Linked DNA regions of Homo sapiens. The protein of the gene in region 1 purifies or fractionates together with the protein of each later gene. This does not show direct contact. Each region holds a gene or a part of one and is shown in the gene's direction. Other genes may lie near its edges.

Region 1 (3,751 bases):
GATCCACTCGCCTCGGCCTCCCAAAGTGTTGGGATTACAGGCGTGAGCCACCGCGCCCTGCCCCAATCAACAAATGTTTACTGAGCATCTACCATGGACCAGGCCCTAGTCTGGGCACTGAGGGGGAGAAAGGACAAGACTACATTCCAGCCATCGAGCAGCTCACAGACCAATGGAGGAGGCTGACGTGGACAGGCTGTTACTGTGCTGCAGTAGCTGAGGACTCGATGGGTGTGGTGTGGCCACTCTTGCCAGGTTATGAAGCAGAAAAGGAGGCAGGGAGATTTCACTGAGGGCTCAAGGGGAGGTGATAATTTAACTACAGCTTACGTACTCTATACAAAGAAGTGCAGAGGGCACTCTAAAAATGGGAACAACTTGTGCAAAGGAAGCAAATACATTATTGCAAAGGGTTTATATGTCAACCATGGTAGTGTTGGGCAAAAGGTAACAGGATCTGCTATGTGTTTCGGAGGGTCATCCTGGTGGATAATTTCTGTATATGTGAGACCTTGGGGAGGAAGGCTTAGGACCAGTGGACATGAAATTTCAATCTATTAATCATGAAGTTTGTCAAAGACAAACACAATTCCTTGCGCCTGGTGAAGATGACTGACTGATTCAGGCAGAGTGGCTTGCTCTAGACAGACTGAATTAACCTCCTGCATTTTTTGGATAGAATACCCACGAACAGTTCTGTTTTCTCAGTTCATTTATTTTACTTTTAAAAATTTGGCCAGGTGATTTGGCTCACACCTGTAATCCCAGTGCTTTGGGAGGCCAAGGCAGGTGGATCACTTGAGGCTAGGAGTTCGAGACCAGCCTGGCCAAAATGGCGAAACCCCGTCTTTACTAAAAATACAAAAATGAAAAAAAAAAAAAGCCAGGTGTGGTGGTGCACCTGTAATCCCAGCTACTTGGGAGACCAAGGCATAAGAATTGCTTGGACCCGGGAGGTGGAGGTTGCCAGTGAGCCAAGATAGCACCACTGTATTCCAGCCTGGGCAACAGAGCGAGACCGTCTACAAAAAAAAAAAAAAAATTACTGAGTTAATCACACTCCTCAGTTCATGATACATTTAACTGGTCCATGCAGGGCCTTTTTCTCCTTTGTATTTATATTCCCTTTTGTCCCTATTCTTCCCCTCTCTTCTCACCACAGGAAACCATTCTGATGTGTTTGGTGTATATCTTCTTTTTGTTTTTTGTTTTTTTGAGACAGGGTCTCACTCTTGCTCAGGCTGGAATGCAGTGGCATAATCATGGCTGACTGCAGCCTTGACCTCCCGGGCTCAAGCAGTCCTCCGTCCCACCTCAGCCTTCTGAGGAGCTGGGACCACAGGCGTGTGCCACCATGCCCAGGTAAATTTGCCGTGTTGCCCAAGCTAGTCTCAAACTCCTGAGCTCAGCAGTCTGCCTGCCTTGACCTCCCAAAATGCTGAGATTACAGGTGTGAGCCACTGCTCCCAGCCTATATGCATATACTTTTAATTTACATAAATGGATTCTGCCTAGACCTCATTTTTTTCCACCTCAGTGCCATGTGTGGAGCTTGTCGATGTTGCTCTGGGTATATTTGGGATGCAGTTTCTAAATGCTCCACAGGTTTCCATAGATGCATCCCCCACATTTTACTTACTTGATTCCTCTAGTGATGAGGTCCCTAGATTGTTTCCCACTCCTTGCTACAATGCAATCCCGTACCCATCTCCTTCCTCAGCTTTGTAAATAGAATTTTATCGCTTCTCAGCCTTTTCGCTGAGATCAAGTGTAGTAAATACAATTTCAAGATGCTGATTTGAGCTTGGCTTTGATAAGCCTGGTAGCTCTTGGTGTCTGACAGGGCCGGATTGTTTGACCTTCGTGAGGTCCTGGCTTTTTTGAGCCATGTTTATTTTTGATAAATTGTGATTCTAGTTCCCAGACACTCTTGGCCAACATTCTAGTGTCCTGCCATCTTCCCCAGTTGATCATTCTCACGAGCTCTGTGGTTAATTTTCTGTTTCTCATCATCATTAATGGTTGCTGTACACTCATTCCAACACAGATATTTGCTCTTTCCTTTCCTGGTGAAACAGTGGCCTGTGAAGCTGGTCCTGGGAGTACCTGTGATGTGAAGTACGTAGAGAAGGACTCTGAGGCCAGAGCCAGACTGTCTGGCTTCAGTTCAGTTCCCAGCTCCTCCACTTCCCAGACGCCTGACCTTGGGCAACTGATTTAATCTTTGTGTCTCATTTTCTCATCTGCAAAGTGGGTCTAATCATTGTACCTACCTCATAGTGTTTTCGTGAGCATTAGGTAAATGAATTAATGTATGCAAAGTCATTAGAACGGTGCCTGGCACATAACAGGCTCCTATTTGGAATGTCAGCTGTTAATAATAGCAATAATAATAATTACGTCATTTCAGATAGGAGACCCTGTTATATTTTGCCATAATGGGTCACATTCAGTTGCAGGGTGTTTGTTCAGAGGGGATGGTGGGGGGTGGGTGGCATAGCTTCTGGACTCTCTGACTATAGATTCCAGCGTAATAGCATTAGCTGTAAGGAAAAAGGGAAGAAACACAGCCCCCAAGGCCCTGGGTGCCTTTTCACTGTCACTTGTTGCCTGTCAGGTTGGGAGACAGTGGCTACAGATGGGTCAAGGTGCTGAGGCCGGGACTCATGCTGGTGGGAATGAGGGAATGAGTGAAGAGAGCCTGTGAAACTGGGAGGATCTTGGTGGTCACCTTGGACATAGGATTCTCTTTCTCTTTGATGTTCCTCTGTACCCTTCTTGAGAATGGGCATTGGGCTAGATCAGCTCTGTCACTGACATTCTGAGGTTTGCCCACGTGTTCAGTGTCAAAGGCTGCTCTGAAATGGAAAGGAGCAGTGGCCCAGGGTAGAAAGGACACAGAAGGAAGCCCCAGTGGTAGGGAGAGGAGATAGGACAAGAAAAGTCAACTTTCTTTCAATGGTATAATGAGGAGGGAAGGTTGTGTTGCAGCAAGAGAGGTTCTGGTCTGGTGGGGGAGGCAGGCCCAGTGACCAAAACTGAAATAGAAGGGTGCAAAGTGAGAGTAGAGGGAGCTAGGTGGGCACAGGCTAGAGACAGCTGCTGAAGACGCTGACGTCTGAGCTAACTCAGAAGTGATGGGCCAGCCTCTCAAGTAGTCGAGGAGGTAAGGGTGATGGAGAGCAGGCCAGGTGAGGAAGCAGCATGTACCAGGGCACGCAGCTATGAGACAGCAAGGGTTCTGTGCCTGTCCTCGGGTGTGCGGCGGGTGAGGGTGAGGCAGGAGTGCTGGGCAAGTCCGTCAGGCCAGCATGGTTGGCAGTTATTCCCCAAGCTGTGTTTCCAAATATCAGCCACTCAAGGACGGCCTTTATGGTTTATGTTACTATAGTACGTAGAAAAGCAGTTCCTCTAACTGTAAGAATGTGGCCATAATAACTCTATGAAAATACACGGGCCGGGCATGGTGGCTTATGCCTATAATCCCAGCACTTTGAGAGGCCAAGGTGGAAAGATCGTTTGAGCCCAGGAGTTTGAGACCAGCCAGGGCAACACAGAGAGACCCGTCTCTACGAAAAAAAATTTTAAATTAGACAGGTGTAGAAGCACACTCCTGTGGTCCCAGCTAGTCAGGAGGCTAAAGTGGGAGAATCCCTTGGGCCTGGGGGGATCAAGGTTGCCATGAGCTGAGTTTGTGCCACTGCACTCTAGCCAGGGCAACAGAACAAGAGCCTGTCTCAAAAAAAGAAAA
Region 2 (3,751 bases), on another chromosome or scaffold:
CGCTCCTCGGTTTCTTTTCTTGATTGAATTTGTTTTGCCCAAAGGCCCAAGTTTATATTCAGCTTCAGAGTTGAGATTCTTTATTTTCTTATCTTTTTTTTTTTTTTTTTTTTTTGAGATGGAGTTTTGCTCTTGTTGCCCAGACTGGAGTGCAGTGGCGCAATCTCGACTCACTGCAACCACCGCCTCCGGGGTTCAAGCGATTCTCCTGCCTCAGTCTCCTGAGTAGCTGGGATTACAGGCATCCACTACCATGCCTGGCTAATTTTTTTGTATTTTTAGTAGAGACAGAGTCTCACCATGTTGGCCAGGCTGGTCTCAAACTCCTGACCTCAAGTGATCCACCCACCTTGGCCTCCCAAAGTGCTGGGATTACAGGTGTGAGCCACTGCACCCGGCCGAGATTCTTTATCTTCTACATGAACCTGCTATCCTGTATAAACCGGCTTTCTCAGGTTAGAGTGATACAGAATTCTTCCAAACTCCAGTAAATCTTATTCTTCTTACTCATTTGTACATATGAATTTTAACTTTGTATATATATATTCTGTACATCTACTTTGAGCTTCTGCCATTTGCTAGGCAAGCATGGTGTTGAGTTTGGGAATACAGCCGTAAGCTACACAGACCTCTGTCCTTTTGGAAATGTTAGCCTAGTGGGAAAAATAGATATCAAATAATCACACAGTTTGTGAATGGTGATTAGTATTATGAATGAAGTATATAGGGTGCTGTTCAAAACATGTCATAGAGGAAACTGATCTAATATGGAGGGCAATAGGAAGAACTAGGGAAGGTTTCCCTGAAGAAGTGATGCTGAGCTGAAAGTTCAAGGATAAGTAAGAACTAACTAGAAAAAGTGACAGAAGAAGAGCATACAAGGCAAAGGGAACTGCTTTTGCAGAGGTCTTTAATAATACTCTATCTTGTCGTATTAGAGAGTAAATTAATTCAGAAGTAACACTTTGTCTTGCAAATCCTAGGTACTCAGTAAATGTTTGATTGAACTATCTATTTTGGAGGGTTGGACAAACTCTCCAGCCCTGTTTCTAGACTGCACTATGACCACCCCATCCCTCTTTGGTTTGCATTTAACATTACAACATCACCCTTTTCAACAAATTCATAAATTTCTGCAATGTTTTCTATACTTTTGAATTATGTTGATTGCATTTTTAAAAACATTTATTTTGAAATAATTATAGATTCACAGGAAGTTGCAAAGATAGTACAGACAGGTCCCTGTGTACACTTCACCCAGTTTCCCTCATAGGTTACATCTTATATAGTTACATTATAGTATCAAAACAAGGAAATTGATCTTGGTATAAGTATGTATCTGTTTCTGTATCATTTTATCACATGTTTATTTGTGTTACCATTACCACCACTGTCAAGATACAGAACTATTCCGTCACCGCAAAGATCTCCCTCATATTCCCTCTTTATAGTCCCACCTACCCAGCCTCTCCCCGCAACAGGTATCCCTAACCCCTGGCAACCATAATCTGTTCTCCATCTCTATAATGTTGTCATTTTCTATAATGTCATATGAATGGAATCATACAGTATGTGACTTTTTGAGGTTGTTTTTTGTCACTCAGTATAATGCTTTTGAGATCTATCCATATTGTTGTATGTAGCAGTAGTTCCTTTTTATTGTTAAGTAGTATTTCATGGTGTGGATGTACCACAGCTCGTTTAACCATTTACCTGTTGGGCGTTTTGGTTGCTTCTAGTTTTTGGCTATTATAACGTAGTATGAACAATCATGTACAGGTTTGTAAGGACATAACTTTTCATATCTCTGAGCTAAATGCCCAGGAGTGCAATTGCAGGATCAGATGGTAAATGCATGTTTAATTTTAAAATAAACTGACAAACTTTTCCAGAGTGGCTGTACTATTTTACATTTCTACCAGTAATATATGAGACATTGTTTCTCTGTATCCTCACTGCCATTTGATACTGTTATTATTTTTATTTTAGCTGTTTTAGTAGATGTGTAGTAATATCTCATCATGGTCTTAATTTGCATTTCCCTAATGATTAATAATGTTGAGAATATTTTTATTATTTATTTATCCTTTTTTTTTTTTTTTTTTTTGAGACGGAGTCTCCCTCTGTTGCCCAGGCAGGAGTGCAGTGGTGTGATCTCAGCTCACTGCAAGCTCCGCCTCCTGGGTTCACACCATTCTCCTGCTTCAGCCTCCTCAGTAGCTGGGACTACAGGTGCCCGCCACCACACCTGGCTAATTTTTTATATTTTTAGTAGAGACGGAGTTTCACTGTGTTAGCCAGGATAGTCTCAATCTCCTGACCTCATGATTCACCCTTCTCGGCCTCCCAGAGTGCTGGGATTACAGGCTTATTTATCCTTTTGAGACAGTCTTGCACTGTCACCTAGGCTGGAGTGCTATGGCGTGATCTCAGTTCACTGCAACCTCTGTCTCCTGGGCTCAAGCAATCCTTCTGCCTCAGCCTTCCAAGTAGCTGGGACTACAGGTGTGTGCCACCATGCCTGGCCATGTAGACGGGGTTTCACCATGTTTCTCAGGCTGGTCTGGAACTCCTAAGTGTAAGCCATACTCCCAGCTCAGCCTTTCAAAGTGTTGGGATTACAGGTGTGAGCCACTGCACCTGGCCTGAAAATCTTCGCTTATTTGCCATCCATGTTTTCTCTTTGGTGAAATATTTCTTCATGTCCTTTTGCCCACTTTCTAATTGGAGTGTTTGCTTCTTTACTGTGGTGTTTTAAAAGCTCTTTATAGGTTTTATTTTTATTTTATTTTATTTTTGATATGTGTTTCGCTCTTGTTGGCAAGGCTGGAGTGCAATGGCCTGGTCTCAACTTACTGCAGCCTCTGCCTCCCAGGTTCAAGCGATTCTCCTCTCTCAGCCTCCCAGGTAGCTGGGATTACAGATGCCCACCACCATGCCTGGCTAATTTTTGTATTTTTAGTAGAGATGGGGTTTCACCATGTTAGTCAGACTGGTCTCAAACTCCTGACCTCAGGCAGTCTGCCCATCTTGGCCTCCCAAAGTGCTGGGATTACAGGTGTGAGCCACCGCGCCGGCTTATCTTATTTTTTGAGAGAGTTTTGCTCTGTCATCCGGGCTGGAGTGCAGTGGTGTGATCTCAGCTCACTGCAACCTCTGCCTCCCAGGCTCAAGAGATTCTCGGGCCTCTGCCTCCCAAGTAGCTCAGATTACAGGCGTGTGCCACCGCGCCCAGCTAATTTTTTGTGTGTATTTTTAGTAAAGATGGGGTTTCGCCATGTTGGCCAGGCTGGTCTCAATCTCCTGGCCTCAGGTGATCTGCCCACCTTGGCCTCCCCAAGTGTTGAGATCATAGGCGTGAGCCACCGTGCCCAGCCAAAAGCTCTTTATATGTTTTAAATCTGAACCCTTTGTAAGATAGGTATTTGCAAATATTTTCTCCTAATCTGTAACTTGCCTTTTCATCCTCTTAACCACAATTTAAGATGAACCTTGATCTCATACCTTATACAAAAAGTAACTCAAAATGGATCATAGATTTTATCATAAAATAAAACTTTTAGAATAAAACAGGAGAAAATCTGCAGAACCTTAGGTTTGGTGAATAACTTTTAGACATAACACCAAATGCATTACTTATTAAAAAATTGATAAATTGGACTTTACCAAAATGAAAACTTACGCTCTGTGAAAGACCCTGTTAAAAGGATGGTTGCATTTAATTTTGGTCACTTTGTAATGGTAGAGAGGT
Region 3 (3,751 bases), on another chromosome or scaffold:
AGGTTCAAGCAATTCTCCTGCCTCAGCCTCCCAAGTAGCTGGGATTACAGGTGCCCACCACCACGCCTGGCTAATTTTTTGTATTTTTAGTAGAGACAGGGTTTTGCCACGTTGGCCAGGCTGGTGTGAAACTCCTGACCTCAGGCAGTCCACCTGCCTCGGCCTCCCAAAGTGCTAGGATTACAGGCATGAGCCACTGTGCCCAGCCTGTTTTTAAATAGTAAATATGAATATAAATTATATGCCTAAACTGAGATATGAGTGTTATAATTTTAACATTAATGTAAGATCAGACTGAAGAGTCAGTGCTAATGAACCACATTTTGGTTCTAATTGAGTCTAAGGCAAAAGTAAGAGCTGTTTGCTCATCATAAACCATATACTCAGGAATCTTGGGACTTCCTTTAAAAGTTAAGACAGGCGGAAATGGGGTCGGCTGACTGTACTCTACAGGTTTAGGTCAACTGTATCTGGCTCTCTTCCTTTAAAAAAATTGAAGGTTAATGTTTTTAGATAAAGATCTTTGAACTGACACATTTTTATCGTTATTATTATCGACACATTTTTATCGTTTTATCATTAACAAAAATCTAGGGAAAAAGTGTTCTTTATTTTTCTACAGATGAGTATCTTTATTTTATTCTTGATTTATAGTTTTAGTCTTCTCTGCCAGTGTATTTATCTTGAAAGAAGACTTTCTGCACATCTGCACATTTGAGAGATGCTCCTTTCAGAAGCACCCTTAGGAGTAATCACTGTGTTAGCCACTTGCAGGAAGGCCTTATTGCTTTAAGATGGCAGAGCCATCACATCCTGGCCTCCCGAAGTTGTCATCTTCACCCAAAACTGGGCCTCATGTGTTTCCTTTTCTGCTCTTCTGTTTTACAGGTGTGACTCAGCACTTCTGTAAAATGGATCAAAAATGTGTTAATGCAGGAAGACGGTAGATACAGGAAGGAAGAACCAATAATTAAGGGTTCTTTTATTTGTTTGGAACAAATTCATAGGCAAAGCCTTTTATTGGTAGCTTGAGGAAACTTAAAAGTAGTAGGAAAGGGTATAAAATCTCTTTCTGGGACACGCTAAACTCCTAGTTTTATAACACGTTGTCTGTGATATTTCTCTAGCCCTGAAGCACTTCTGAACATTACTTCAGAACATAAAACCTATGCTTTGTTTTTAAAGGTTTTCGTTGTTATGTAATAGCATCCAGCTGCTAATCCTTTTGAGCAGCACCTGTAATAATAATATGGCAGGAGGAGCCTTCCGTTCGCTGTGTGCAGGTGTCTGCGGGTTACCTCCTGCGGTGGAGCTGCATGAAAACAAGCACACCGTCTCTGTGAATAGCCACAGAAACATCTGAACGTCCTTTGCTTAGCATGCTTCTTTGCACTTGTGAGGGATTCTTTGGGGAGGAGGGTGATCATCTCTGATCCATGGATTTAGCTTCCCTGCCAGCGATGGTATGCGATTTTGACCCAGAGACATGGGGAGCTTGTGCCTTCGTGAAATTTGCGGCAGCGGCAGTGTGTGTTTTATCCATTAACAGAGGCAGCATAGTGGATGAGCTCAGGTTTGAGTTCCTGATCCATACTTAAGCTCTGTGTGCCTCAATTTCTCCATCTGTAAAATGGTGCCTACCTCATTGACTGTAGTGAAATTAAGAGTGTATATGCAGACCATGGAAGAGTTCCTTGCTTGTAGTAAGCACTATGTAAGCATTAACCTGCCATTACTGTTAATATTACTGTTAATGGGCCGGGCGCAGTGGCTCACTCCTGTAATTCCAGCACTTTGGGAGGCCGAGGCGGGCAGATCACGAGGTCAGGAGATCGAGACCATCCTGGCTAACACGGTGAAACCCCTTCTCTGCTAAAAATACAAAAAAATTAGCTGGATGTGGCGGCGTGTGCCTGTAGTCCTAGCTGCTGGGGAGACTGAGGCAGGAGAATGGCGTGAACCCAGGAGGCGGAGCTTGCAGTGAGTGGAGATCACACTACTGCACCCCAGCCTGGTTGACAGCAAGACTCTGTCTCAAAAAAAAAAAAAAAAAAAAATTACTGTTAATGTAACTATTGTTTAACTTTTCCCTGCTATGGGATCACATTCAATTGTAAAACTACTGTTTTTTGTTTTTATTTTTGTTTTTTTGAGATAGAGTTTTGCTCTTGTTGCACAGGCTGCGGTGCAATGGCGCAGTCTGGGCTCACTGCAAACTCCACCTCCTGGGTTCAAGCAATTCTCCTGCCTCAGCCTCCCAAGTAGCTGGGATTACAGGCACCTGCCACCACACCCAGCTAATTTTTGTATTTTTAGTAGAAACGGGATTTCACCGTGTTGGCCAAGCTGGTCTCAAACTCCTGACCTCAGGTGATCTGCCCATCTCAGCCTCCCAAAGTGTTGGGATTACAGTTGTAAGCCACTGCGTCTGGCCTGTAAAACTGAATTTGCTTACCTTTTGGCATTTTCTACCACTGCCTTAATAACTCACCCACCCAAGGATAAAGATAAGAAAATAAAAACATTTTCAGACTTTTCATGTTTTATTGGATATTTCAAACATATGCCAAAATAGAAAGGACATATTTACAGGAAAATGTTATTTTTATTTTATTTATTTATTTGAGACAGGGTTCCACTCACTTGCCCAGGCTGGAGTACTGTGGTGCAATCTTGGCTCACTGCAACCTCCACCTCCCCAGGTTCAAGCAATTCTGCCTCAGCCTCCCAAGTAGCTGGGACTACAGGCACGCGCCATCACACCCAGCTAATTTTTTGTATTTTTTAGTAGGGACAGGGTTTTGCCATGTTGGCCAGGCTGGTCTCGAACTCCTGGCCTTATGTGATCCACCCACCTTGGCCTACCAAAGTGCTGGGATTACAGGTGTGAGCCAAAAATGTTGATTTTTAAAGGCAAAAGAAATGTCATTTGAAATGTGAAAAGTAGAAGTTACACATCTATTGCCTTGAGGTAGCTTTTTAAAATGTTTGTCTTATGCATACACACTGTACATAGTTGTAATTCTAGAAAACATACCATTTTATGGCCTTTCTCTACCCAGCATTCAAGTATAAGCATTTTTTTCATTGAAAACAAATAGTTTTCAATGGTTTTGTACCATAATAATTGTTTCCCTTTTTAAAAAAATTGTAGATAAAACATTGGTGAAAATCTTACTGCAGATAGTTTGGGGGTTATATAGGAAGGTGATTTTTGTTTTGCTTTTTTGATTAGGAGTGTCAGGATTTCTTTCGTGGTACATGAGAACCTTACTATAAAGTGGCTCTTTAGGACCGTTCTGAAGTCAGCCTTATGAAGGTGAAATAGACTCTGATGAAATCACCCCAAGTCTGTGGCTTTTGTTGTAAGGCAGAGCTGCTCTGTGTCAATACCTGGTGTGTGAGAACAGGACGTGGTAGCTGTCATGGGACCCTCTAGCCCATCATTCTCTAGACCTGCACTGTCCAATACAGGATCTACTAGCCATGTGTGGTTATTTAAATTTAATTAGAATTAAATAAACTGAAAATTAATTTCCTTATTCACACTGGCCATATTTTGAGTGCTCAGTAGCCACTTATGGCTAGTGGCTATTGGTTTAGGTGAGCACATATAAAACATTTTTATCACTGCAGAAAGTTCGGTTGAGTAACACAGCTCTAGATTAGTCTCTAACTGCTCAGCTTCTTAACCTTACAGTGATAAGAGCCACCTCTTATAGGTAAGATTTTCTAGAGCAAAGTTGGGCAG

The links.
Region 2: the proteins of RMND5B (region 1) and ARMC8 purify together in Homo sapiens (affinity purification with mass spectrometry; 4 studies listed by BioGRID and IntAct, with this or other methods). This does not show direct contact.
Region 3: the proteins of RMND5B (region 1) and UBE2H purify together in Homo sapiens (affinity purification with mass spectrometry; 2 studies listed by BioGRID). This does not show direct contact.

What each region holds. Positions count from the first base shown.
Region 1 is NC_000005.10:178,133,951-178,137,701, forward strand, and holds part of RMND5B (E3 ubiquitin-protein transferase RMND5B), read left to right. Parts: intron 1-1,219; exon of another isoform or gene 1,220-1,262; coding exon of another isoform or gene 1,263-1,362; intron 1,363-3,751. UniProt on the Homo sapiens protein: Core component of the CTLH E3 ubiquitin-protein ligase complex that selectively accepts ubiquitin from UBE2H and mediates ubiquitination and subsequent proteasomal degradation of the transcription factor HBP1.
Region 2 is NC_000003.12:138,190,189-138,193,939, forward strand, and holds part of ARMC8 (armadillo repeat-containing protein 8), read left to right. Parts: intron 1-3,751. UniProt on the Homo sapiens protein: Component of the CTLH E3 ubiquitin-protein ligase complex that selectively accepts ubiquitin from UBE2H and mediates ubiquitination and subsequent proteasomal degradation of the transcription factor HBP1.
Region 3 is NC_000007.14:129,841,304-129,845,054, reverse strand, and holds part of UBE2H (ubiquitin-conjugating enzyme E2 H), read left to right. Parts: intron 1-3,751. UniProt on the Homo sapiens protein: Accepts ubiquitin from the E1 complex and catalyzes its covalent attachment to other proteins. E2 ubiquitin conjugating enzyme that transfers ubiquitin to MAEA, a core component of the CTLH E3 ubiquitin-protein ligase complex.